Homo sapiens: one gene and its partners. The protein of the gene in region 3 purifies or fractionates together with the protein of the main gene of each other region. This does not show direct contact. Each region holds a gene or a part of one and is shown on either strand. Other genes may lie near its edges.

What was found. Proteins that work in one complex are often made in the same cells at the same time.
Region 1: the proteins of OSTM1 (region 3) and PTPRS purify together in Homo sapiens (co-immunoprecipitation; one large-scale study listed by IntAct). This does not show direct contact.
Region 2: the proteins of OSTM1 (region 3) and NFXL1 purify together in Homo sapiens (co-immunoprecipitation; one large-scale study listed by IntAct). This does not show direct contact.
Region 4: the proteins of OSTM1 (region 3) and STK39 purify together in Homo sapiens (affinity purification with mass spectrometry; one large-scale study listed by BioGRID and IntAct). This does not show direct contact.

Annotation. Positions count from the first base shown.
Region 1 is NC_000019.10:5,211,813-5,215,312, forward strand, and holds part of PTPRS (receptor-type tyrosine-protein phosphatase S isoform 1 precursor), read right to left. Parts: coding exon 3,477-3,500; intron 2,925-3,476; coding exon 2,749-2,924; intron 2,669-2,748; coding exon 2,549-2,668; intron 680-2,548; coding exon 525-679; intron 439-524; coding exon 153-438; intron 1-152. UniProt on the Homo sapiens protein: Cell surface receptor that binds to glycosaminoglycans, including chondroitin sulfate proteoglycans and heparan sulfate proteoglycan.
Region 2 is NC_000004.12:47,904,584-47,908,083, forward strand, and holds part of NFXL1 (NF-X1-type zinc finger protein NFXL1), read right to left. Parts: intron 764-3,500; coding exon 654-763; intron 1-653.
Region 3 is NC_000006.12:108,050,742-108,054,241, reverse strand, and holds part of OSTM1 (osteopetrosis-associated transmembrane protein 1 precursor), read left to right. Parts: intron 1-3,043; coding exon 3,044-3,211; intron 3,212-3,500. UniProt on the Homo sapiens protein: Required for osteoclast and melanocyte maturation and function.
Region 4 is NC_000002.12:168,164,096-168,167,595, reverse strand, and holds part of STK39 (STE20/SPS1-related proline-alanine-rich protein kinase), read left to right. Parts: intron 1-188; coding exon 189-297; intron 298-3,500. UniProt on the Homo sapiens protein: Effector serine/threonine-protein kinase component of the WNK-SPAK/OSR1 kinase cascade, which is involved in various processes, such as ion transport, response to hypertonic stress and blood pressure.

The sequences.
Region 1 (3,500 bases), on a different chromosome or scaffold from region 3:
GCTATGCTTTCAGCTGGAGCACCAATGGTGGATAGGTAGGTAGGGGCACCCTGCCACCACCTTCTAGTCCCCATTGCTCGAGGCGGGCCTGATTTTCGGCTCTTTGGGCCTCCTCCCCACCCCGCCCACAGCAGCCTCCACCCCGCTGGCACCTTGAACTCGAGTTCCATGCCAGTGACGTGTTCGCCAGGCTCCACCTGGGCCAGCTTCTGGATGTAGGCATAGAGGCTGCGTGCGGGCACTTCTGTGTTGCCACAGCCCACGGCCTCCAGCAGGGCCTCGTGGATGAAGCTGTACTGGTCCTCCGTCTGCACCATGTAGTTGCGCTGGGACCTCATGAGCGTCACGTGGCCATAGACATCGACTGTCTTCTCTGGCTTGATCCGCTCAAGCATGGCGTCGATGACGATAAAGCAGCCTGTGCGGCCCACACCGGCACTGCAGGGACAGCCACGTGGCGTTCAGGGGCTGCTGGGCTGCGGGGACCGGGGGGAAGCGGATGGGGCAGAGTGGGGTGGACGTACCTGCAGTGAACCACGATGGGGCCGGCATCTGGCGGGTTGCAGGTCTTGACTCTCCGCAGGAAAGCCAGGAAGGGCGTTGGGTATTCGGGCACGCCATGGTCCGGCCACGCCGTAAACTGGAACTGGCGGACCTCGCGTTTCTCACTGGAGCCATTCTGGGGACCACAAGGATGTCACCTGTCACTCCGGCTCAACCTGCCACCCATGTGCTGAAGATGCCCAAGTGGCCGGGTGTGGTGGCTCATGCCTGTTATCCCAGCACTTTGGGAGGCCGAGGTGGGCGGATCACCTGAGGTCAGGAGTTCGAGACCAGCCTGACCAACATGGAGAAACCTCGTCTCAACTAAAAATACAAAATTAGCTAGGCATGGTGGTGCATGCCTGTAATCTCAGCTACTTGGGAGGCTGAGGCAGGAGAATTGCTTGAACCTGGGAGGTGGAGATTGCAGTGAGCTGAGATGGCGCCACTGTACTCCAGCCTGGGTGACAGAGTGAAACTCCATCTCAAAAAAAAAAACACCCATGTCTGCGCCTCCCAGTCACCATGTCCCCAAGTGCCTGACTTGGGCTCTAGCTGGCCCTGGACGGTTTCCAAGTAGAGTCTTGCGGACGCCTCACACACAACGTGGCCAACTGTATCTGGCCTTCTCCCCAAACCTGCTCCCCCGTCTTAGCTGAAGGTGGCTCCAACCTTCTGGGCACTCTGGCCACAGCTTGGGAGTCACCCTTAACTCTTCCCCTCTCACATCCAACACCTCACCCGGGACTGTCGGCTCTGCCTTCAAAGTCTATCCCAATCCACCTGCTCCATGTTCTCCATGCAGGCCAATCTGGTCTAGACCTATCACCACCCTCTTTGCCGCAGACCTTGGCTCCCACCCAAGCCCCCCAGTCTGTCCTCCCTGCAGCAGCCAGAGGGCACCTGAGTCAGATCTGGTACCTCCTCTGCCCACAGCCCTCCATGGCTCCTGCCTCCCACAGGGTCAAAGCCAAAGTCTTCCCCAAGGCCCACAGGATCCTGCATGACCAGGCACGGTCCTGCCCCAGGGCCTCTGCCCAGGCTGCACCCTCTTACCTGAAATGCTGTCCCCCCAAATCTCCCCATCATACCCTCTTCCAGGTCCCTAACACTGTTTTTCTCCTCCACTTTATTTTTCTCCTTTGACATGTAAGCTTTCTTGACATTTCATAGTTGTGGTCTGTGTCTTGTCTACTAGACTGTTAAATCCCCCAAGGGCAGAACGTTTTGTCTGTTTAGGTCCCTGTTGTGTGCTTGTGTCCAGGTTAGGGAGTGAGATATAACATATGCTTAATGTATAACATATGCTTAATGTGTGTGATTGAACCAAGAATTCTCACTCTTGTCCATGTACTCAGTTTTCTGGCACTTAGGTCAAGCAGGTGCCTGACGGTGAGATGACCTGGCTGGGTGTTGGGGATACATCACGGTGCCAGTAGCACCTCCCCTCCCCATCATGACAATAACAAATGTCTCCTGGATGGCAGAATTGTCCTAATTCAGAACCACAGATGGAGAAAAACAGATGGAACCGCACTATGGACAGCAGCCATCAGTTAAATACATATCTAAAAGATCTTCTCCATCCCAGTCCTGACTTTGCAGGGCTGCCAATATCTGTCCATCTCTGTCTGGAGACTCCTTGAAGGCAGGGCTGGGGCCCTGCTGAGGCCCCCATCATAGGCTCAAGCTGGGTGAGGCCAGAGGACAAGTGGGCAAAGAGGACCTGGGGCATGAGTAAAGGCAAGAAGAAATCAGGCTCATTGCTGAGTTGGGCTCTGCCGGCTTTGTTCTCCTGCCGTGGGTGGAAACAAGCAGTGTCCTCTCTGAGCCTCAGTTTCCCCCTCCACGGAAGTGGGTTCCATGAGAATGTAGTCAGCCTGGGTAGACACGCTCCGCTTTCTCTCTGTCCCATGGGGAGCTCCCTGGGTAGAAGCTGGGGCCCTCTGCCTCCCTTCCAACACATTCCTCCACCCTCAGCCCCCAGCCCCAGCCTGGGCCCCACCTTGTGCAGAGAGAATGTCCTGACGCAGAATGTGGCCAGCTCGATGGTATCTAGCAACGTGACCTGGATGAAGCCGTAGGTCTCCGTGCCTCTGTTGGGCCAATACTGATCACACTTGATCTGTATCGGGCAAGAGAACAGGTGTCAGCAGGGACAGGCTGACTGGCAGGGGCTTGAGGGCCGTGGGGTCCAAGGCTCACCCGTGACTTCTCCTCCAGCCGCGTCATCATGACGATGGTCGCCGACCGCTGCTCCCACACCATACGCCAGAAGTCCCCAAAGGTCTCAGGCAGCGGCCCCTGCGTGGCAATGTACGCGTTCTGACACCGGTAGCCGTCCACGTAGTTGGCATTGATGTAATCACTGCCCATGATGCCTGCAGCCAGGGCGAGAGGCCAGGGATCTGTGGGGGCTGTCTTGCTAGTTTGGCTCTGTGTGGCCAACCACTTCCTGGAAGTTCACTCTGACCGCTCCCAGATTGTCCCCAAGGTGACCATGGGACGTGTACTTCACAGTTTCTCCCCCTCAGCGCCATCACCATTTGGGGCCAGATCGCCCTCTGTGGCGGGGCCATTCTGGGCACTGCAGGGTGCTGAGCAGCATCCCTGGCCTCCGCCCACTCCACGCCAGCAACATTTCTTCCCTTCAAGTTGTGACAACCAAAGATGTCCCTGGACATTGCCAGATGTCCCCTGGGCAGCAAAACTGCTCTGATTGGTCACAACTGATGCAGAAGGACAGATGAAGCCATGTTAGAGAGAGCAGCCATCAGTTAAATACATATCTAAAGATGCCCAGTGGCCTCCAGTTGGAGCTGGACCAGGTCTATGACCAGAATCAGGCCTCAGTGGCCCAAGGGGAGACATGGGATCTAGCACTTTCCATGCAGTGGGGAAGGGCAGGTTAAGACCCGGGATCTCCGAACTACCTTCAATGGGCTGGAGGATGACAC
Region 2 (3,500 bases), on a different chromosome or scaffold from region 3:
AAACTATTTCATCTGACTTGATTTGCTTTCTCTAGGCAATGCTGCTATAATAGCAGTGAATTAATCTAAGGTCTAAATGTTGAGTCTTTCACATTCAGTAATCACTTCTTAATTGCTTCATTAATGCCCTTTTAAATTTACACATATATATCTTTATCACTACGCCATATCTCCTCCAAGGACATGAGTTTTGTCTGAATCTCTCTCCCGACTGACCCTCACCACTTCCCAAAATGCCTTTAACACAGGATACGCTAACTAATTAAGCCATAAGTGTTACTGCCAAGTTCTACTTTCTTGAAGATAGGGACCGTATCTTTTTCCAAAAGTAATAAAATATAGTACATTTAACATTTCACTTTTGTGGGAATCTCTAAAGTACAGATGCTAAAAATGTTCTATCAAATCAACATTTGCATTAAAACTGAAGACAACTAAGTTATATCAATAGTGCTAAAAATACTGGATACTCATTTAGTGGTAATTTTTTTTTAATTACAGATTTTAAAATGAAGATCAATTCATATACAAAATTCTCAAATGAAGCATTTTTAAACATAAGTAAACAAAAGAATAATAAATCGTTAAGTATTGTAAGGCAAACTAAGGTATTTTGGGGAGATACATTAATATAAATAAGGAGAAAAACTTACTGCTTGGTTTCTCTTCACCGAAGCAATACAAATTAGGCATGTCATAGCCCCTGCTTGAAAAGCTTCATTTACATATTGTTTTGTTCGCTCTAATTCACGTGTATCTCCATCTGGAAATTTAAAGATTGAAAATCTCACCCTAAACAACATCTGAAAATAACACAAACTCACTAATAGCACCATATTATGTAAGAACTGTCTAGCAATATCAATTGCTCAAAATATAGCTGTAAAACAAGAAGTTTTTTTTAAAAAAGTAACCAATGAGCTGTCAAGAGGTAACGAAGTCTGTGTATTAAATCTTGTGTACTTTGTTCAAAATCAGTACCTCAGCTCTCTCTCTCAGTTATACTTGCTTTTTTGGCTGTTAGAATTCTCAACAAATTTGGCAGAAGCAGAGCCATAAGCAACAGCAGCAAGATGTAAAGTCTTAAGGAAAAGCAAAGTGTGAAAGGAAAAGCCTAAACTAATTAGTAGAGCCACTGAGCATAAATATAAGCATAGATGTGAGTGAGTGGGGGTGGGGGTGGGTGTGTGTGTATGAATTTAGCAGGTGTATTCTTAATAAAAAGTTGTTGAATGAAAAGACCCTGAGGTTTTTACAGTACAATAGCCACATCTCATGAAATCATGTTCACTATTTCTGCTTAAGAAGGTAGCATAAGCTTTTTAGAAAAAACAGTACCTGACATTATTTTCTTTCAGTAATTATTGAGTGCTTATTTGCTAGACACCGTACTATTAGTACTTCAATAGGATTAAATGAGCTATTATCTTCATTTTACAGATGAGAAAACTGAGGCACAAAAGAATTAACTTCAGTTTGCCTACAAAGTGAACCCTCTTAACCTCTATGCTGCACTGCAGTGAGCAGTTACTGCAGGAAGGTCCAACAAATAACAAGCAACAGCAAAATGAAAAACAGAATGAGTCCTCTAAAGCACAAATGACACCAAAAGGACAATAATCTGAGTCACTTTAGTATGAGAGAAATAAGCCTACATGCCTTTAAAACAATAAAGATTGTTCAATAGTGGTTAACTGAGTCTTCAAAAAAAGTAGATTAAAACGTAAACTACCATAAGTACAGAACTTACCATGGCAATAACGTGGTTCAAGCCAAAATTTAAGTTGCCAAAAAGAAAAATTAAATAAATAGGACATGTGGCTAATTCTTTACTTTCTAAAATCATCTGAGTAAACACGGCACTTACAAAAGCTTGCCCTACCATAAAATAAATATGATTTAGAACATTAAGCAAAATAAACGCAAACATACTCTCAAAACTATAAATTATTATAAAATTATTAAAGACAGTTGCTTTATTTTAAACAAACATTGAAGTTTTTAAAAAAATCCTTAAAAGCAGAATAGTATGGGGCGCCTATTTTGCTTTTCAACAAAGCTGGCATTAACAGATACAAAACATTTTAAATTTCATCTAATTTAACAGCTAACTCAAAAAACAGAATTTAAGAAGAAGATAGAACAGGCTTTTACAAAATAAAAACCAACCTTATATTTTAAAAATTTATGTAAGATTTCTTTGAAACATGTATTAAAGTTTGGCTGCATCAATAAAATGTACTGCCCAGCACATCACAGCGGATAGCATGCTATTTGAAGTCATGCATTTTAAAAAGATGACTCTGGCAACTAAAGAAAAATGAGTATGTGGAGGCCAAGACTGAAAGCTGGAAGTACCAGTTAAGAGACAGTTACAGCAGATTAAGCAAAAAATGACTTTGAGCAAGTTACCTAATGTGTCTCAGTTTTGTCATCTGTAAAACTAGTAGTAACAGTTATCTACCTCACAATTATCATATGGATTTAATCCACATGTTAAGCAGCTGTAAAGGCTTGAAGTAGGCAATGACAGTACACAGGCAGAGTAAGGGTAGATTTAAGAAATTTAGGAAGTAAAACTTAGGAGGACTTGGTGACAATGAGATTGTGTCTGTTTTAAAAGCTGATGTTCATGTCAAGATTCAGAAGGAAAGAGGGCTGTGTCTGCTGAGCTAACATGGGCAGAGGGAGAATTGCAGTAAATGACATGCATATGCCATCTCTGCTCCCAGATGTCTGGCTTGGGAGGGTGACTGAGAAAACTGTAGTGCTATTAAGATTAAGAAAACAAAAGAATAAATAAGTTCTCTTTCAACAGCAGTTTGATGGGTCCACGTGCCAGCAAGATAGAGATACTCATCAGGAAGTTGGCCATGCAAGTTTGAAATTTGAGAGAAGAATCACAAAAATGCAAAGGCTGTGCTCAAATAAAAATGAACTCCTTTGGTAAAGTCCTGGTCTTCAATTCACTAATGTTAAGGTGGGAACCATCCCATTACTCTGGAATGTATGTTCTTAAATCAAGTGATCAGATTTTCTTACATTGGTAGAGGCAAAGGAATGGGAATCATATACTAATGGATTTTATACAAAACACAGCATAAAAAAATTACCATAACACTTTTAAGATTAAAACCAGATTAAAAATTAATAAAACTTACAAATGACAAATGTTTTCTACATACTAGACTGAAAGACATTATTGCATTTTCTATTTTAAAATAAAATGACTCTATCTAGAATGGTTTAAGTGAGTTCCTCTCAAAGCAGAAAACTTCTTAAGATTATTTTCTATAAGGTCCTTCAGAAACAAGAAACCCTCTAACCTTAGAGTTACTTTTTATCAATTCTTACCTTGCCAACCTAGACTTCTCAGCCAAACTTCCTAATCTTAATTCCTTAGCAGATATGGTAAATTCCTTAGAAACCTACTTGATGATGTACAACTATCTTCATGATCCTATCAATATACTCAGGCAACTATCTAATCACCAAGGTTA
Region 3 (3,500 bases):
GGTGAGATAATGATTGTGAAAACATTGATTGAGGTGTGTGATTGTTTAATTAAAACACAATGGTTTTCAATCTGACTTACGTAGGTATTTTGCAGTGTAGTATGATTCTGTCTATAGGAAGTTTATTCTTTGCCTGAAATTTGCTTAAGTATGTTTTACCTACCTTAAAAAGCACTGTTTAGTAAGATAACTTTGAGTATTGAATTATGATAATAAAAGGTAGCTTTAAGAATCTTAACCTTGTAGATTATTGCCATCTCTATCTCTGACTCTTGAATTTTGGTATTGGAACTTGCCCGGTCGTGGTGAAGGACGAGGTTGGAACTCTGGTTAAAATGTAGTTTTGAAACTTACATAACAAGTAAGTAATCCCCATAGTAGATGTACACATGCTTAGGGTATAAGCATGTATGATTTCTTCTGTAATAAATGTGGTAACACTGAATTATGAATTTCCTTGAGAATAATAAAAATTGGGCCAGGTGCAGTATCTCATGCCTATAATCCCAGCACCTTGGGAGGCCAAGGCAGGCAGGTCACTTGAGGTCAGGAGTTCGAGATCAACCTGGCCAATATGGTGAAACCCTGTCTCTACTAAAAATACAAAACTTAGCCAGGCTTGGTGGTGCACGCCTGTAGTGAAGTAGAGGTTGCAGTGAGTTGAGATCGTGCCATTGCACTCCAGCCTGGGCGTTGCAGAGAGACTCTGTCTCAAAAAAATAAAATAAAAAAAATTAGGTGAACATTTCTCAGAATTTGTTCTGCAGCATGTTAATAGATGTCCTATCAGAAAGGGTTTAGTATTCCATTAAGGTTGGGAAATGCTTTACTACAGGACTTCAGAGCCTTTAGTGGACTGATGTGTGTTGTAACACTCAAATAGCAATTTTTCTATAAAGTCATCCCTTTTATATATGGCTTCACTTTCCACAGTTTCAGTTACCTGTGGCCAACTGCAGTCCAAAAATATTAAATGGAAAATTCTGGAAATAATAAGTTTTAAATTGTACACCATAAACAGTCTTCTTTTCATTTAACTTAGAGTACTTGTATGAGTTTGGTAGATTTCTAGAAGTAGAATTACTATATTGGCAGCCTAAGAAAAAGACACTAGAGAAAATTATCTCCAAATATGATGAGTTTATTAGGGAATAAGAAAGAAGTATGGTAATTTGGAATGCACTGGCAAACCACCAGTACATCCAGTGAGGGAAGGGTAAAGGGAAGCTTTTATTAGCAAAAAGGGAGAGGTTCACACAAGCTGCTTGGAAACTGAGTTCATTGGTTCCTGAGGCTCAAAGCCAAGTTGTCAGTTCATTGGTGGCGATGCCATTACTGGGCAAGTGTTCTTTTGAGTGCATCTTATCTGAATTACTGCAGTCCTAAAGAATGGCAGTGATAAACCATGTGAAAGCAGGAGTTGCAATGAAGGGCGTGAAAGGATTTCTTGTGGGGTTTTTAGAAAGTCTTTGGAAACAAGGACTCTTTTTGTCTCTATTTTGTCTTGGTCTGTCAAAAGGTGATTTCATCCTAATGTCTGCAACTTTCACATTATTAAAAGATATGTGCATTTTAAATTTGAATAAAAATTGTGGCCAGGTATGGTGGCACCTGCCTGTAATCCCAGCACTTTGGAAGGTTGAGGTGGGAGGATCATTTGAGCCCAGGAGTTAGAAATTAGCCTGGGCAAAATAGCAAGACCGTGTCTCAAAAAAAAAAAAAAAAAAAAAGGTTAAATTACTCCCCATCTAGATTATGTGCACAATTTTAGTTAAATGGATTATGTGCTCAATTTTTTTTTTTTTTTTTGAGACGGAGTCTCGCTCTGTCACCCGGGCTAGAGTGCAGTGGCGCGATCTCGGCTCACTGCAAGCTCCGCCTCCCGGGTTCACGCCATTCTCCTGCCTCAGCCTCCCAAGTAGCTGGGACTACAGGTGCCCGCCACCACGCCCGGCTAAGTTTTGTATTTTTAGTAGAGATGGGGTTTCACCGTGTTAGCCAGGATGGTCTCGATCTCCTGACCTTGTGATCCGCCCACCTCGGCCTCCCAAAGTGCTGGGTTTACAGGTGTGAACCATCGCGCCCAGCCCTGTGCTCAATTTTTAACTAAGTGCACAATTGTTCTGTGAAAAACAAGCAATGGGCTATTTCTTGTAGCAGACTAAGGAGAGACTTAGTTTTTCTGTCAAGCAGATGGTGAGGGTAACATTGTTGGGCCAACATCAGTGTAATTACTTTGATTTTTCTCTTTTCTCTTTCATCCCAATGTTCAGTTAATATTCTTTCTTCATACTACAAAGTAAAGAATAAAGGGCATAGAAAGCAAAGGTGTGAACTGACTGTTTAGCAAACTTATTCTTGAAAAGACAAGTGTCAGTCTAGAAGTACAAAATATTGAGATTTAGTAGCATAATATTTTATGTACCTCCACTATCCTCATTTTAGGTTATACAATTCTTTGGTATTTGGCCCTTTTTGTTGACTAGAAAGGCCTGGATTATGAGCCTTGTGATAAGAGAGTTGAGTGGGGATGCAGTTTTGGTGCCTTTTCCCTTTCCATTTAAAAAGTTCTGTCTCAGTAAGATAAACTATGGTGTTCAAGTCAGCATAGGCAGGAACCTATTTTATTTATTCAGTGAGAGTAGGATAGATAAGTGAGGGTTTGTGATGATGAGATAATTTAGGAAATTTTGTATTTAGTTACTAGTCATTTGGCATATGAATTATTGTTATCCTCAGTTAACATTAGCTAATGCAGCAGTTTTGAAAATTTAGAGGCACCTAGAAAGTTCCAAACAGTTTGCCATCTGCTTCACATACCGGGTCTCTAATCCTTCGGACTTATAATACAGGTAGAGGTCGTTTTATTTTATAGATGATAAAACTGAGACTCAGAGTGATTTAGTAACCTACTCAACATCACAGCTTAGCACTTTAACACACCATATTGTTTCCCGTCTTCTAGAAGCGTAAATAGCTTACATTAAAGAGATATTGTATATAATGTTTATTGTATATATTACATGTGCCTTTGTCATTTTAGGGGAATGCACATAGTCTTTTACAGACAAAAAATTATTCAGAAGTATGCAAAAACTGCCGTGAAGCATACAAAACTCTGAGTAGTCTGTACAGTGAAATGCAAAAAATGAATGAACTTGAGAATAAGGCTGAACCTGGAACACATTTATGCATTGATGTGGAAGATGCAGTAAGTACTTTGCTTCTGATGTGATACATATTTTAGAGTGTTATTGAATGTACCTTCAGTATGATTATTATTTTTGGTGATAGGGTGGAATCTGCATATTCTGTCCTCAACCAAAAATAACTAGTTATAAAGTAGTAAAGTTTTAGAATATCCTGGTCTGTTAAACCAAAATGGATATTTCCTTAGTAGTCTCATGGTTAGGATAAAAATAAAACAGAAATTAATTAGGTACTTCATAAGTGAGTTGATGCTTTGGTACATTTTAATCTTTTTAAATTTGAAAATATGT
Region 4 (3,500 bases), on a different chromosome or scaffold from region 3:
TAATCTGAGTTGATAATGTGGGTGAGAGAATTGGTCCTTATATACCTTCTTTGAAGTAATGGCTTAGGCAGCCCCTCAGGTAGGCTTTCGAGTAGGAAAGTTACCCAGGTACTCAACTGTGATTCACTTGTGTTTTGCTTGCCAATTTTCACCCCATGGTACTATGTCATGTTTTGCTCTTTTTATAGAAAGAAATTCAAGCCATGAGTCAGTGCAGCCATCCCAACGTAGTGACCTATTACACCTCTTTTGTGGTCAAAGATGAACTTTGGCTGGTCATGAAATTACTAAGTGGAGGTAAGTGGATTTTGTTGTTGTTATTTATTTGCTTGTTTTCTCTCCTTTTGTTGGAACCAGCATATTGGAGAAGACTTTAGATTGAATCCTTTCTCTCCTGTGTTTGAAAGTTTGTTTGGTTTCTCATTGCCTAGAGGATAACGTCCAGATTGCTTCACATTGACCTTCAAAGCTTTTCATAATTTTGCTTAACTTCCGAGAATGTGTATGTCCTCTTCTCCAGGTATGAAATGCCCGACCTTCTAGGCTGAGAGGCAGCCCCCGGAATGTATTATGTGCTCTCATGCCTTTGCCCCTGACCTGTCCTCTTTCTCAGCCTTGCATCTCTCCTTTGTTTTCCATGTGCTCAGGCCTAAAAGGTCACATCCTCTCCACAGTCACCGCTTACTCTTCAAAAAAGTTAGCCAGTCCTTTCTCCTTGAGTCCTTTCTTTTTAACATTGTTCAGGTCCTTAACACATTGCAGTTTGCTGAATTATCTCAGTGCCATTTATCAGAATGTTCTGTGATGATGGAAATGTTCTGAGGTGCTGCTATCTACTTTTTACTAATCCCATGTGACTCTTAAGCACTTGACATGTGGCTAGTGTGACTGAGGGACTGAGTATTCAATTTTAATTAACTTACATTTAAATCACCTTGTATGGCTCCAGTATTGGACAGTGCATATTTAGGTTGTGGACTTTGTGAAGATTGTCTAATGCACTTTGAATTCATTGAACTTGGCGCCCAGTAGGTGCTCACTAAATGTGGTTTCAGTTGACATGGGGAGAAATGTGTGCTACATATTCACTTGCAGTGTTGATCAGAAATGGCACTATTGTCATCCTATTGTTGCATTTGGGAAGGGAAAGTCACTTCCTCTCTCTAGCTTCAGATCCCTGCAGTGATGCAAGCCATTGACAATTTAATTTACAAGGTGCTTTCACATCCTGTATTTTATTTCTTTTAATCTTCTAACATCACTATCAGAGAGGGAATGATAATGATAACCGTTGCCTTTTTTGAACACTTACTCTGTGGCTAGATCCTGTCCAAGGCAATTTACTGACCTTATCCCATTTAATCTTCACAGTGTCCCTGAATGGCCTGTGTCACCATCCCTGTTTTTCAGAAATTACACCAAATTTCAAGGGAGTTTAGCAACTTGCCCAAGGTCACACACATAGTAAATGTTGGTGCTGGAATTTGTGACTTTAACATCTGTTGACTTAAAAATTTGTATGCTGTGCTGCAAGTATTTACACCTTCGTTTTGCAGACATGGGCACTGAAGCTTAGAAAGCCCAAGTGATTTCCTTGGGAACACCCAGCATACCCACATCTCTGGTGTGTTCTCTTTCGAGGGCTTGATTCTCTGGGTATCTTTCTGAGACATGAAGTATGGTTTAGGATCAGAGGAGAACATTTTGCTGTGCCTGGACAACCCAAAACTAGCATAGCAGAATTTATATGATAGAGCCTATTTTAATCTGCAGATGTCGAGGGAGGTGTTTTAATGTTTTCCTTTTTTAAAAAGGAAACTCTCTTGGATCAAGCAGAAGCCCAAAAATGAGATGACGAAGGCATTGTAATTGGCTTGGGTCTGCTTGTGTAGGTCTCGGTGGGGAGCCCTGGGGAGCTTAGTTCTGTTCTGTTTTCAGTCTTCCTCAGTCTTATTAGTCATTGTTTCCTTGAGTGCCTACTTCAGTTTTTAATTAAAAAGAAAAAAAGAAAAAGGAAAAGAAAAAGGAAGCCTGCCAGAGCTGGACTGCAGTATTGAGTGCTGGGACTGCCCCTTTATTCAGCAGAGGAACTTGCGCTTTGCCAACAAGATGATCTTAAGGCATTCTCTTTTTGTGGGGTTCCACCAACTCTGAGGAAATGAGAAATTCTGATGACTTGAGACCCTGAATAGTCCCAAATGCTCTGCTCAAGCTGAAGATTTTACCTTTTGCTTTATGAAGCTGAGAATCTTCTGTTTTCTGAGGAGGATCTGACAGAAAATTTCTTTGTCTTTTTGAGTCCAATTTAGCCTCTCTGGGCTTTAGGTAAGAACAGATTTTAAACAGGTTTCCACAGGTAAGGACGTGGGCAGACGTGGACTCTTGTTCATTTTTCTTTTAGCAGGACAGAAATGCATGCATGCCTGGTATGGTATATCCTTATACAATAAAAAGAAAATGTTTTTGGAATTATCATTTTTTAAATGACACAAAAATCTAAGAGTCAACAAATAAACAGAGGTTTTTTTTTCCTCTGGGGAAAAATATGCATTTGTTTTCTTCTATTTCATTACATTGAATCTCTTAATGAGGGGCAGGCAGCTGTATCTGATGGGGAAGCTCAATCCTCTTAGTTAATTATAAAGAGCCTAGAGCCAAATTCAGGTCCTGAGGTAAGCCGTTTGTTAACTCTTCAGAAATGTCAAACCCCCAGGTAATTTTGGCTTTTAAACTGACCCAGGGGTTTGGAATACTAATTAATATGTGTTGAAACATGAATTCACAGTGCCAAGGATACTAATCTGTATATGGTAACAAAGTACTAGGTATCTGTTTGTTTATTGTAAGTGTTAGTGCCTCAAATATATCAGGTAAATGAAATAAAGATCAGCCAGGCTCAGTGGCTTATGCCTATAAGCCCAGCACTTTGGGAGGCCAAAGGTGGGCAGATCACTTAAGCCCAGAAGTTCAAGACCGGCATGGGCAACGTGGTAAGACCCCATCTCTACAAAAAATACAAAAATTAGCCAGGCGTGGTGGCACGTACTTGTAGTCCCAGCTACTTGGGAGGCTGAGGTGGGAGGATCGCTTGAGCCTGGGAAGTTGAGGCTGCAGTGAGCTGTGATTGCTCCACTGCACTCCAGCTTATATGACAGAGGCAGACTCTGTCTCAAATAAAAAAAGAAAAAGAAGGAAAGAAAATAAAGATCAGGTAGTGTCACAGGAAGGAATCTTCCGGTTATAAGCAGAGGTCTAGAAACAACATACTTCTTTCCCCCTCCCACCTGTGATTTAGGTCCTCAAAGAGTGTGTTTTTTTTCTCTCAGCAGTTCACTTCTGCCTTTTCTCCTGGCCTCATACTCCTTTCTTTGTCAGTTCAGACTTTTTGCACCCTCTTTGGAGGGTTGCTCTTAGGAATTTTTGTGAGAAATACTGTAACCAGAAAAGGAACCAGCCATGGAACGGCCATGAACAGCCTTCTGGTCCCTGACCCAGAATCC